2 separate regions of the Homo sapiens genome follow, and region 1 is reported to be linked to region 2. The links are microRNA targets in miRTarBase. Many come from high-throughput screens and were not tested one by one. Region 2 holds a microRNA gene; the other region holds the end of a gene's coding sequence.

Region 1 (4,394 bases), not on the chromosome of region 2:
GGCTCACGCGCCGCACATGGCCACCATGAACCCCATGCACCAAGCAGCGCTCAGCATGGCCCACGCGCACGGGCTGCCGTCGCACATGGGCTGCATGAGCGACGTGGACGCCGACCCGCGGGACCTGGAGGCATTCGCCGAGCGCTTCAAGCAGCGACGCATCAAGCTGGGGGTGACCCAGGCAGATGTGGGCTCCGCGCTGGCCAACCTCAAGATCCCCGGCGTGGGCTCGCTTAGCCAGAGCACCATCTGCAGGTTCGAGTCCCTCACACTGTCCCACAATAATATGATCGCGCTCAAACCCATCCTGCAGGCATGGCTCGAGGAGGCCGAGAAGTCCCACCGCGAGAAGCTCACCAAGCCTGAACTCTTCAATGGCGCGGAGAAGAAGCGCAAGCGCACGTCCATCGCTGCGCCAGAGAAGCGCTCGCTCGAAGCCTACTTTGCCATTCAGCCTCGGCCCTCCTCTGAAAAGATCGCCGCCATCGCGGAGAAGCTGGACCTGAAGAAAAACGTGGTGCGCGTCTGGTTCTGCAACCAGAGGCAGAAACAGAAAAGAATGAAATATTCCGCCGGCATTTAGAAGACTCTTGGCCTCTCCAGAGACGCCCCTTTCCTCGTCCGCTCTTTTCTCTCCTCTCTTCTGCCTCTTTTCACTTTTGGCGACTAGAAACAATTCCAGTAAATGTGAATCTCGACAAATCGAGGACTGAAGAGGGAGCGAACGAGCGAACAACTGAGCCCAAGCCGGTGAGAATGTGAAACAGTTTCTCAAAGGAAAGAATAACAAAAGATGGTATTTGTCTGTTGTAGCAAAGTTGTCCCTTTGAACCCCACCTCGGCTTCTTCAGAGGAAGTGTGGAGATGGCTGTTTGCAGGAAGGCAGACGAGACAGTGTTTAAAAAGTCCACAAGAATGATCAAGTAAGATTTGTTTTTATTCTTACAGACATCACCCGTGTTCAAGTTTAAAAGTACACTTTGCAACTATTTTTCAGAAATAGAAATTGATTCAGGACTAAAACTTTAAACTAGAGTTGATGCTTAATGTGATAGAGACATCTCTAAAGTATTTTGAATTTTAAAAAAAGATGGCAGATTTTCTGCATTTACACTGTATATTATATATATATTTTTATTGTGGTTCTTACCCCCTTTTCCTTCTCTGAAGTGTTAATGCTTAAGAAAAGAGTTGCGCCTGCTGTGTTCACTGATCTTGAAAGCTATTATTAGATTATTGCAGAACAACCCTCTGTAAATTATTAATTTATCTCTCTAGCAACTTAATTTTGTGCACATTCTAATTAATTAAACTTCTTCCGTCTAAAAAAAGTGGGGGAAATGTATAGCTAGTAACGTTCAAAAAATTTTGTTTGATGAGTTTACCGAATTTTTACAGCTTTCCTCCTATACTGTGTTCCTTTTGACCCATTTGTATATTCTCACTTGAATGAAGATTGTTTTTTTCTTTGTTTTTACTGGTAGTGTTCTGATTTGTGAGTCGACACTCAGTAATGGATGTCTTAATCGTGTAGACCTGATTCACTGTCTGAAGTATTGTTTACTTCGTTACATATTTAATGGGGATTCCCACATTGTCCCCATGACACATGAGCGCTCTCACTTACCCTTACACACACACACACACACACACACACCTCTAACAGAAGGGAAGAAGCAGTTGGAAGCATGACCGATGCACCATTTTCTAGTTTTAGGTGCATTTGCCACTTGGTGTTTGCCCTTCAGATTTTAGATTTCACCAAGGTATTTCAGTCTTCCAGTTTTCAATTGCTTTGTTGGCTACATGTTAATATTTATAGGAATACTTCAGTTTTTCCTTTTGGAGGTTTGTTTGTAGAAAAACTAATTTGAACTATAAGAAAGACAGTGCACTGCTTGTAAATTCACATTGTTTGGAAAAATTCTTTTGGAACAAAAAATTAGGTACATGATAACTGGTACCTTATCTACTGTAAATATTTCATTAAAAATGATGCACACATAGATATATTCTTACAAATTTTGCTGTATTGCTGTTCTCTTTGAGGCTCTCCAAAGTCTTGAGTTCTGTATATGGCCTGGTTTCTTGTTTTTATTAATAGATGGTTTATTTACTATGGTAATGTATTAATTTATTTTTGGTGTTGTTCGATTGTCTTTCATTGAAGAGATAATTTTAATGTTTTATTGGCAACGTATGCTGCTTTTTCATTAAAATATGCTATTAAAATTAAATGGCTTTTAAAATGTGATGTTGTTTTAATCATTTATGTGGGAAGTGTTTTGGTGGGAGACTTTTTTAAAGGAGGAAGCACATTTTGATGATTTATTAGGGAGTGGTTGTTATCAAAGTATAGCTTGGACTTAGTAAGGGCTGTTTCTATGGTAAAGTATTAAAGAACAAGGTTTATAACCGCCTTTTAATAGTGAGAACTCATCTCACAGGATACTTCACTTTTCTGCTCAGAAGAAATTATGATATTTGGCTCCAAATATCTCCCTTGGAGTTCTTCCTTCAGACTTGCAATAATCCTGCAAAAAAGAATCTTTATAAGCAGAGATATTGGATGGAAACAATTTCATGCATTCCCTCCCAACTATCAGGAGTAAAAGTAAGAAAGAAACTCAGCTCACTTTTCAGCAGCTCTAGGAGACTGGGTGTGGCAAGAGCCAAGGCCTGGTTGGAGGAGTACAGAACCCTGGTTGAGGCCCAGAAGCAAGCCCACCATAGCTTTCAGTTTGGTCACCACCACTGGAAAGCAAGGAACCCAGACAGAGCAGGAAGCACCTGAGTTGCTGGCTTAGGAAATAAGGCCTCTCTCTCTCTCTCTCTCTCTCTCTCTCTCTCTCTCTCTCTCTCTCTCTCCTCATTTCCCATGACCTTTAAGGAAACTCACATAGCAGAGTAGGGCTGAGGAAGAAATTCTGTGTAGTTAGGAGTAGCAAATTTTTGCCCTCTTCTGTGATTCACCCTGACATCAGAGTTGGTGGGAAGTCTGTCTGACACTGGTTTGGCACTGACACAGGAAAATTCGTCATGTTTGATGCAGTCATTTCTTCTTCTGATCCTAGCTTAAAGACATCTCTCCACTATTTTAATAATATTCAGACTCCCTACAACAGTTGGACAACATAATACCAGGTTTTCAAAGGTATTTTTTCCCTCAGTAAGTATCTGGTTTAGATATTTATGTTATTAATATCTCACACTATTAATTAATATGAGAATATCACGCTAATCTATAGCTCAAATGAGAGGAAGATCTAGGTCATTCTCCAGGAGTAATTCTATTAACCTGAGCTGTGACTCTTCTGATACAGAATTATCTTGAGATGTTTCTTATTTTGGAGACAAGATTAGGAAATATCCTATGAGTCAATGAAAGTCGTTACAGTGGCTCAAGTTGGGATTAAATGTTGTTGGAAATATCATAATTTCTGGAGGTAACAAAAAGAGTTGTGAAAGTTAGATGGAGAATGGGTGGAGGGACCTCTTTTTATTACTGAAAAAGGAAAGACACCTGAGGAAACAAAATCTAAGTGTCCATTACAAATAATGAGATGTTGCATAGGTGCCTAAGAAAACATTAAAACTTGTAGGAATTTAAAAGAAAAAATTGTGAGTTCAAGTATAGTAATATTGATGGTTTAGTTCTATTTCTGTCTTGAAGGCTGAAAGTTTCTTCTTCTGTCTCCCTTCGTATTCTTAGATTCGGTTTTCCTGAAAGTCTTTTCAAACAGCCAGCATATGCTGAGTTAAAGTCAGCTCGGTTCTATGCTGAGTACTAATTTCAGTACCATGGATAGTAACCGTAGAACTCAGCCCTACTCCAACTCACCTTTGACCAAAAAGTTTTTAGCTAGCTGGACAACCTTCGGCTTGCTTGCTTTCTCCAGAGTGGAGAAAATGAATAAAATGGCTTGAATGTAAAACAGATTCAGCTTCCTTATCTAGGATAAAAATGATCTTCAATAAATAACACCGTTCCCTTCTCATATGTGGATTTTTAGTGAAAGGGAGTTAGTTGGTGGGAAGTAAAACAGATGTGCTAGTGTCTTATTTCTACAAATATAGCATCTTTAAATGAAGATGAAAACACTGTAAAAGTAGTAGAAATTGAGAAACATATTGAACAGAAATAAAAAGGAGTTTTAAAAGTACTTTTGAAGTACATGACAGCTTGCATATGTGCATACATGCCTAAGATTTTTGCGAGAAAAGTGACATAACAACAACTATCCATATACTTCCATAGTTGAGAGTAAAGGCCTATATTTTCTCCTAATTCACCAGGTGTTCTTTGTCTCTCGTGTTCCTGGACTTTCAAAAGTACATCACATTTTGTTAATCTTTTCTGTGTTAGGGTAAGAGAAAACTTTCTTGTCTGCAAG
Region 2 (6,349 bases):
GGGACGGAGAGAAGTGTACACTTTGCCCCTGGCCGCCTTCTTCCCTCCTGGTGTCCTGGGTGGACACGGAGGTGTGTCTGGGGAAGGTGTGTCCTTTAGGGCCGGTCGCCTGGGAAGGATGTTGAGCGGAGGGCAGTGGGTGTGGGTGAGAATCCCTGGGCAGAGAAGGGCGCCGCCATGCTGGGCACGGCTGAGTCACGCTCCAGCGACGCCTTGCCCCAGGGTGCTGGAGCTGGCGCCACCCTGGGTGTGGTCACTGAGCTGTGGCCCTGGGCAGAGCAGGGCTGGGTGGTCTAGGATGTGGGGCCTCGGTGCCTGGGGAACTGACTTCGAAGATGCCAAGCCCCCTGGCCTCCCGCCTGGCCTAGGTTCTGGGGTCACCCTCCAGGACTGTGGTGGCCCACACCCTGAGAATGCCTTGGAGAGCCTAGAGGCCCTGAGCCTTGGGCCTGGGAATCGGTGCGTTGAGGGAGGTGGATAGGGCGCAGACACCAGTGACTGCATTCAAGGCCAGGGGACCCCCACAGCCAGGCCCTCACTGCAAAATGTACCTATGTGGGGAGAAGGCAGGGGTGGACCTGATGACGGGGTGTACCACTCTACTAAGGGTTCCCAACATGAAGGTGAGGGGGCCCCTGGGAATTCTGTGATTGGTCTGGGAAAGATTAAAGTCTAAGTGGGGGTTAGAGTGTGGACTGGCGGGACGCAATGGGGGCTGGGATGTCACTTTCATGGTTCCCCTATTTATAACAAGTGATTCAGCCCTCACTTACTCACCCCTTCCTGAGCCTCCCCCCACCCCAGCCCTGGGTGGGCAGCGGGGCCCACCCACTTGTCAGTGCCCTGACTTTCCCTACCCAGTGCCACCCTCTGAGGGCTGCCCATCGGGGCGGTTGTTATTGTCGCTGCACTGGGATTGGGGCAGAGGGGCGGGGGGCTCCTGGTCAGGCGGCGCTTGGCCGGGCAGCCCAGGTTGGCGGCTGGCTCGAGGCCCAGCCCACGGAGCTTCTGCTGAGAGTCTGGGCCCATTAGGCAAAGCGTTAGTGACAGGCTGGGAGGGCGGGTGGCGCGGCGGGCAGGGCGGGGCCTGCAGCCCTTGGTATTTTCCGATCCCAGCTGCTCTGTGAGGGTGGAAAGTATTTGGGGACCAGGCTTGGGGGCGGAGGTGGTGGTGGCGCCCCCGGCGGAAGCTGCCCCTGATTCATTCTTGGAGCATGGGGTTGGGGGGGTAGCGGTACACATACATACCCTTGTGTGTCTGGTCCACGCACACGCTGTCTGGAGGGGGTATTCAGGCATACCCACATGCATTGGCTGGCCGGGGTGTCCTGATGCAGCCTGGGGCCTGCTTTGCTCCCCAGCCCAGGGGCCCGCCCTCTCCCTCATGCCTCCAGCTGCTAGGAGCTTGGTTTCCCCCTGGACACCATCTCCCAAGAGCCTGAGAAGTGCACCATGATTGGTAAAGGGGACCCTGTCTCCTGGGCACCTGCATGGCAGCACCCCTTCCACTCAAGACCCAGACCTTTTGTGCCTGCGGGGATGGGGAGTGGCCTTGGCCCCGGCCCTGGGCTCTGTGCAGGGGAAACCCCACAGGAAACGAGCCTGGCCAAATGGCCGCCCTTCCCGTTCTCGTCCCTGGGACACGAATGTGCTGTCTCACTTCCGGAGGCGGCCCAGGGAGGCTGGCCGCCCTGCGGGGCCTCGCCTGCTCCCAGTTGGCGCCTCCAGACCCTAAGGGGACAGGGCTGGGCTGGGGCCTGATGGGAAAGAGTGGCTGGTATGTGTGTATGTGTGTATAGGGAGGGGACAAAACAGGACATCACTCGCCGCCTGTCTCGAAGTGGTGAGCGCCACCACATCGGGCGGACACTGGGGTCCTGGTGTGAGACACCCACGTTTCCGTTATCCTTTGCCTTGGCAAAGACAGCAGCAGCTCTGTCGTGATCATGTTTATCACTCATGGGGTCCTCACCATGACTTATGAAGTCCATACTTATTATCCCTGTTTTGCAGATGGGGAAGCTGAGGCCCAGAGAGGTTGAGTGACTTGCCCAGAGTCACCCAGCTCAGAAGCTGCAGAGCTGGGGCTTTCAAATCTGGGCAGACTTGGGCTCCAAAACTGGAGTCTGCTAGCCAGGTGTTGGGCTCTTATCAAAAGAAGCTCCACTCACTAAAGACTTAGGGCTGGCTTCATGCATTTGTGAAACGGGCAGTCTCACGGCAGCCCTGCTTGGAGGGACCTGGAGGTTAGTTTAATGTTGCACTGCTGGGGTCATGAATTTTTTTTTATTATTATTAATTTTTTTGTCTTGTATTGCCCAGGCTGGTCTCGAACTCCTGGCCCCAAGCGATCTTCCTGTCTTGGCCTCCCGAAGTGCCGGGATTATAGGGATGAGCCACCGCGCTCAGCCTGAAATTATTTTCTTTTTTTAAACTTGTTTTTGTTTATTTTAGAGATAGGGTCTTGCTCTGTCACTTAGGCTGGAGTTCAGTGGCATGGTCATAGATCACGGCAGCCTCAAACTCCTGGGCTCAAGCAGTCCTCCCACCTCAGCCGCCTGAGTAGCTGGGGCTACAGATGTGTACCACCACTCCTGGCTGATTTTTTAGTGAATTTTTTGTGGGCCAGACACTGTGGCTCAGGCCTGTAAGCCCAGCACTTTGGGAGGCTGAGGCAGGCGGATTGCTTGAGCCCAGGAGTTGGAGACCAGTCTGGGCAACATGGCAAAACCCCATCTCTACAAAAATTAGGGCCAGGTGTGGTGGCTCACGCCTGTAATCCCAGCACTTTGGAAAGCCGAGGTGGGCGGATCACCTGAGGTCAGGAGGTCGAGACCAGCCTGGCCAACATGGTGAAACCCCGTCTCTACTAAAAATACAAAACTTAACTGGGCGTGGTGGCGGGCACCTGTAATCCCAGCTACTCGGGAGGCTGAAGCAGGAGAATTGCTTGAACTCTGGAGGTGGAGGTTGCAGTGAACCGAGATCACGCCATTGCACTCCAGCCTGGGCGACAGGGCGAGACTCTGTCTCAAAAAAAAAAAAAAAGAAAAGAAAAAGAAAAAATTAGCCGGGCATGGTGGTGCATAGCTGTAGTCCCAGCTACCCCGGAGGCTAAGGTGGGAGGATCACTTGAACCTGGGAGGCTGAGGCTGCAGTGAGCTGTGATTGCACCCCTGCACTCTAGCCGTGGCGACAGAGTGAGACCCTGTCTCAAAAAAGAAAAAATATTTTTTTTTTTTGTAGAGATGGGGTATTGTCGTATTGCGCAGGCTGGTCTTGAACTCCTGGCCTCAGGTGACTCTCCTGCCTCGGCCTCCCAAAGTGCTGGGATTACAGGCGTGAGCCGCCATGCTTGGCCTGAAATTCTTAGTTTTCGAACTAGAGGACCACGTGTTCATTTTGCACCGGGTCCTGAAAATCCTGTATCTTGCCCTGGTGCTGGGCACTTACTGAGTGACATACATACTCGGTGACATCTCACTGGGCTATGCAAAAGAGGCTCTTGGCTCCATTTTACAGATGGGGAAACTGAAGCTTTGGAGAGTCTTTGGGAAACTGTGGAGCAAGGATTTGAACCTTGGGCTGTTTGGGTGGAGAGGCCTGTATCTTGGAGCTTGGATCCTGTGCTCTGGGGGGCGGGGGGTGCGTGTCTAGAAAGAGAGGGGGGTGCCTTGCTGCCGGCATCCGCCCTGGTGGGTGTGGGCTAAGCCCTGGCCACTGAGGAGACCGGGCCACGGGGGGGGAGGCCCTGGTGGTTTCCTCCTGCCCTCCAGGCTTCTAGGAAGTGGCGCCAGCTGGGGTGAGATCACTTCCTCACCCGCCTGCCTGGCCCCCCTTGGCTTCCTCTCCCCATGGCCCCATTTGGCCTGCCCAGGGCTCAATGAGGGGGGAGCTTGGCCATGCAAGTTGCTGTAGCCTCCTTGTCCCGCATGGGCCCTCTAGGTATCTCTGCCTCTCCAGTCCTGGGGCTGGAACGGAGGGCACAGCTAGGCTCCAGCTCCCCGTGTGGTGGCTCCTGCATATGAGAAAAGAGCTTCCCTGTGATCAAAGGAAGCATCTGGGGACCTGGAGGGGAGGTGTCCCCAAATCTCATTACCTCCTTTGCTCTCTCTCTCTTTCTCCCCTCCAGGTGCCAGCCTCTGGCCCCGCCCGGTGCCCCCCTCACCCCTGTGCCACGGCCGGCTGGGGTTCCTGGGGATGGGATTTGCTTCCTGTCACAAATCACATTGCCAGGGATTTCCAACCGACCCTGAGCTCTGCCACCGAGGATGCTGCCCGGGGACGGGGTGGCAGAGAGGCCCCGAAGCCTGTGCCTGGCCTGAGGAGCAGGGCTTAGCTGCTTGTGAGCAGGGTCCACACCAAGTCGTGTTCACAGTGGCTAAGTTCCGCCCCCCAGGCCCTCACCTCCTCTGGCCTTGCCGCCTGTCCCCTGCTGCCGCCTGTCTGCCTGCCATCCTGCTGCCTGGCCTCCCTGGGCTCTGCCTCCCGTGCCTACTGAGCTGAAACACAGTTGGTTTGTGTACACTGGCTCAGTTCAGCAGGAACAGGGGTCAAGCCCCCTTGGAGCCTGCAGCCCCTGCCTTCCCTGGGTGGGCTGATGCTTGGAGCAGAGATGAGGACTCAGAATCAGACCTGTGTCTGGAGGAGGGATGTGGTGGGTGGGGTTGGCTGGGCCCAAATGTGTGCTGCAGGCCCTGATCCCCAACTCTGCAACTGGGGACCCCTGCATGGCCACAGCTCAGGCTGGGCTGTGGTGCCAGCATAGATAGGTGGGTGAGTGGGTGGCCCTTCCATTAAAAGGGAAGCCAGCTGTGTCCTTTCCGGGCCTGGAGGCTTGGCCCCTCCTCTCCCAAGCCTGGCAGGGGCACTGGCCCGGCCCGCACCTTCCTAGCAGCCAGTTACCCAAGAGGAAGCTGCCTTGGGCCTCCAGACCGTTAAATGCCAACTCCTGGCTTCCGGTATCAGGCTGGGTTGACCTGACCTGGCCCCTTCTTGCTGGGCCCTGCAGCTTTCTAACTTGCCGGGAGGAGCAGTGACACCCGCCCCACATGTGGGGCATGGAACAAGTTCCTTGTGGACCCAGAAGGGACACAAGCAGGTGTGCTTAGTCCTGAGGCGCTGGGAATAGCTGATCCTCCCTGCCTTGAGGGGGTTCTCAGGGCAGGGAAGAGTTAGGACTCTGTTTTTTTTTTTTTGTTTTTTTTTTTTTGAGATGGAGTCTCGCACTGTCACCCGGGCTGGAGTGCAATGGCTCGATCTCGGCTCACTGCAACCTCCACCTCCCCAGTTCACACGATTCTCCTGCCTCAGCCTCCCAAGTAGCTGGGATTACAGGTGCACACCACCGCACCTGGCTAATTTTTGTATTTTTAGTAGAGACCGAGTTTCGCCATGTTGGCCAGGCTGGTCTCGAACTCTTGACCTCAGGTGATCTGCCCGCCTCAGCCACCCAAAGTGTTGGGATTACAGGCATGAGCCACTGCGCCCGGCCAATTTTTTTTTATGTTTTGTAGAGACGGGGTTTCGCCATGTTACCCAGACTGGTCTTGAACTCCTGACCTCAAGCAATCTGCTCGTCTTAGCCTCCCAAAGTGCTGGGATTACAGCTGTGAGCCACCGTGCCTGGCCTTTTATTGTTTGTTTTTGAGACGGAGTCTCACTCTGTTGCCCAGGCTGAAGTGCAGTGGTGTGATCTTGGCTCACTGCAACCTCTGCCTCCTGGGTTCAAGCGATTCTCCTGCCTCAGCCTCCTGAGTAGCTGGGCTTACAGGCACCCACCACCATGCCCGGCTAATCTTTGTATTTTTAGTAGAGACGGGGTTTCACCATCTTGGCCAGGCTGGTGTGATCATGGCTCATTGCAACCTTGAATTCCTGGGCACAAGTGATCCTCCTGCCTTAGCCTCCCCAGTAGAGCTGGGACTACAGGTATGCGCCACCACACCTGGCTAATTTTTTTAATTTTAATTTTTGTAGAGATGGGGGGGCAGGTCTCACTATGTTGCCCAGGCTGTTCTCGAACTCCTGGCCACAAGCCATCCTCCCACCTTAGTCTCCCAATGCGCCGGAATTACAGGTGGCTCAGGTGTGAGCCACCGTGCCTGGCTTTTCTCCACTATCTTGAAATCAGATGGGAGGAGGCTTTTTTCTGGGTGGGACTGAGGAGGCACACTGAAGTCCCCCAGGTCATCGGGGCTGGGCCATTGCCTTTTTCCCCACCCTGGGTAGTCGTGGACAGAAGCTTGGGATGGGATGGAGAGGAGAGATCGTGCTGTGTGTCATGTCTGTTGTTCAAGTAAATAAAAGTTGCCCTGACTTCATTCCTGAAGGTCTGGTCTGTGATTCA

What was found. The annotated mature microRNA hsa-miR-23a-3p reads AUCACAUUGCCAGGGAUUUCC and lies in region 2 at 4,224-4,244, shown strand. An mRNA with a match to its seed (bases 2 to 7 or 8) in the 3' UTR can be bound and repressed. Matches are read on the target gene's strand: a 7mer-m8 pairs with bases 2 to 8, a 7mer-A1 pairs with bases 2 to 7 and ends in A, and an 8mer does both.
Region 1: the mRNA of POU4F2 is a reported target of hsa-miR-23a-3p. Seed matches in the 3' UTR shown: 8mer at 685-692, 8mer at 756-763 and 7mer-m8 at 1,046-1,052.

What each region holds. Positions count from the first base shown.
Region 1 is chr4:146,640,226-146,644,619 of GRCh38, forward strand. It overlaps POU4F2 (POU class 4 homeobox 2), which reads left to right. Exons shown (of 2, transcript NM_004575.3): 2 at 1-2,249. The coding sequence ends at 583. Among named protein-coding and RNA genes, the nearest start is that of POU4F2, 3.5 kb to the left of the region's middle.
Region 2 is chr19:13,834,490-13,840,838 of GRCh38, reverse strand. MIR23A (microRNA 23a) reads left to right here and starts at 4,180; the gene lies at 4,180-4,252. MIR23AHG (miR-23a/27a/24-2 cluster host gene) reads left to right here. Exons shown (of 1, transcript NR_036515.2): 1 at 1-6,323. It overlaps MIR24-2 (microRNA 24-2), which reads left to right and starts at 4,480; the gene lies at 4,480-4,552. MIR27A (microRNA 27a) reads left to right here and starts at 4,322; the gene lies at 4,322-4,399. RefSeq lists a silencer at 918-1,147 and enhancers at 1,568-1,667, 1,888-2,107, 2,138-2,247.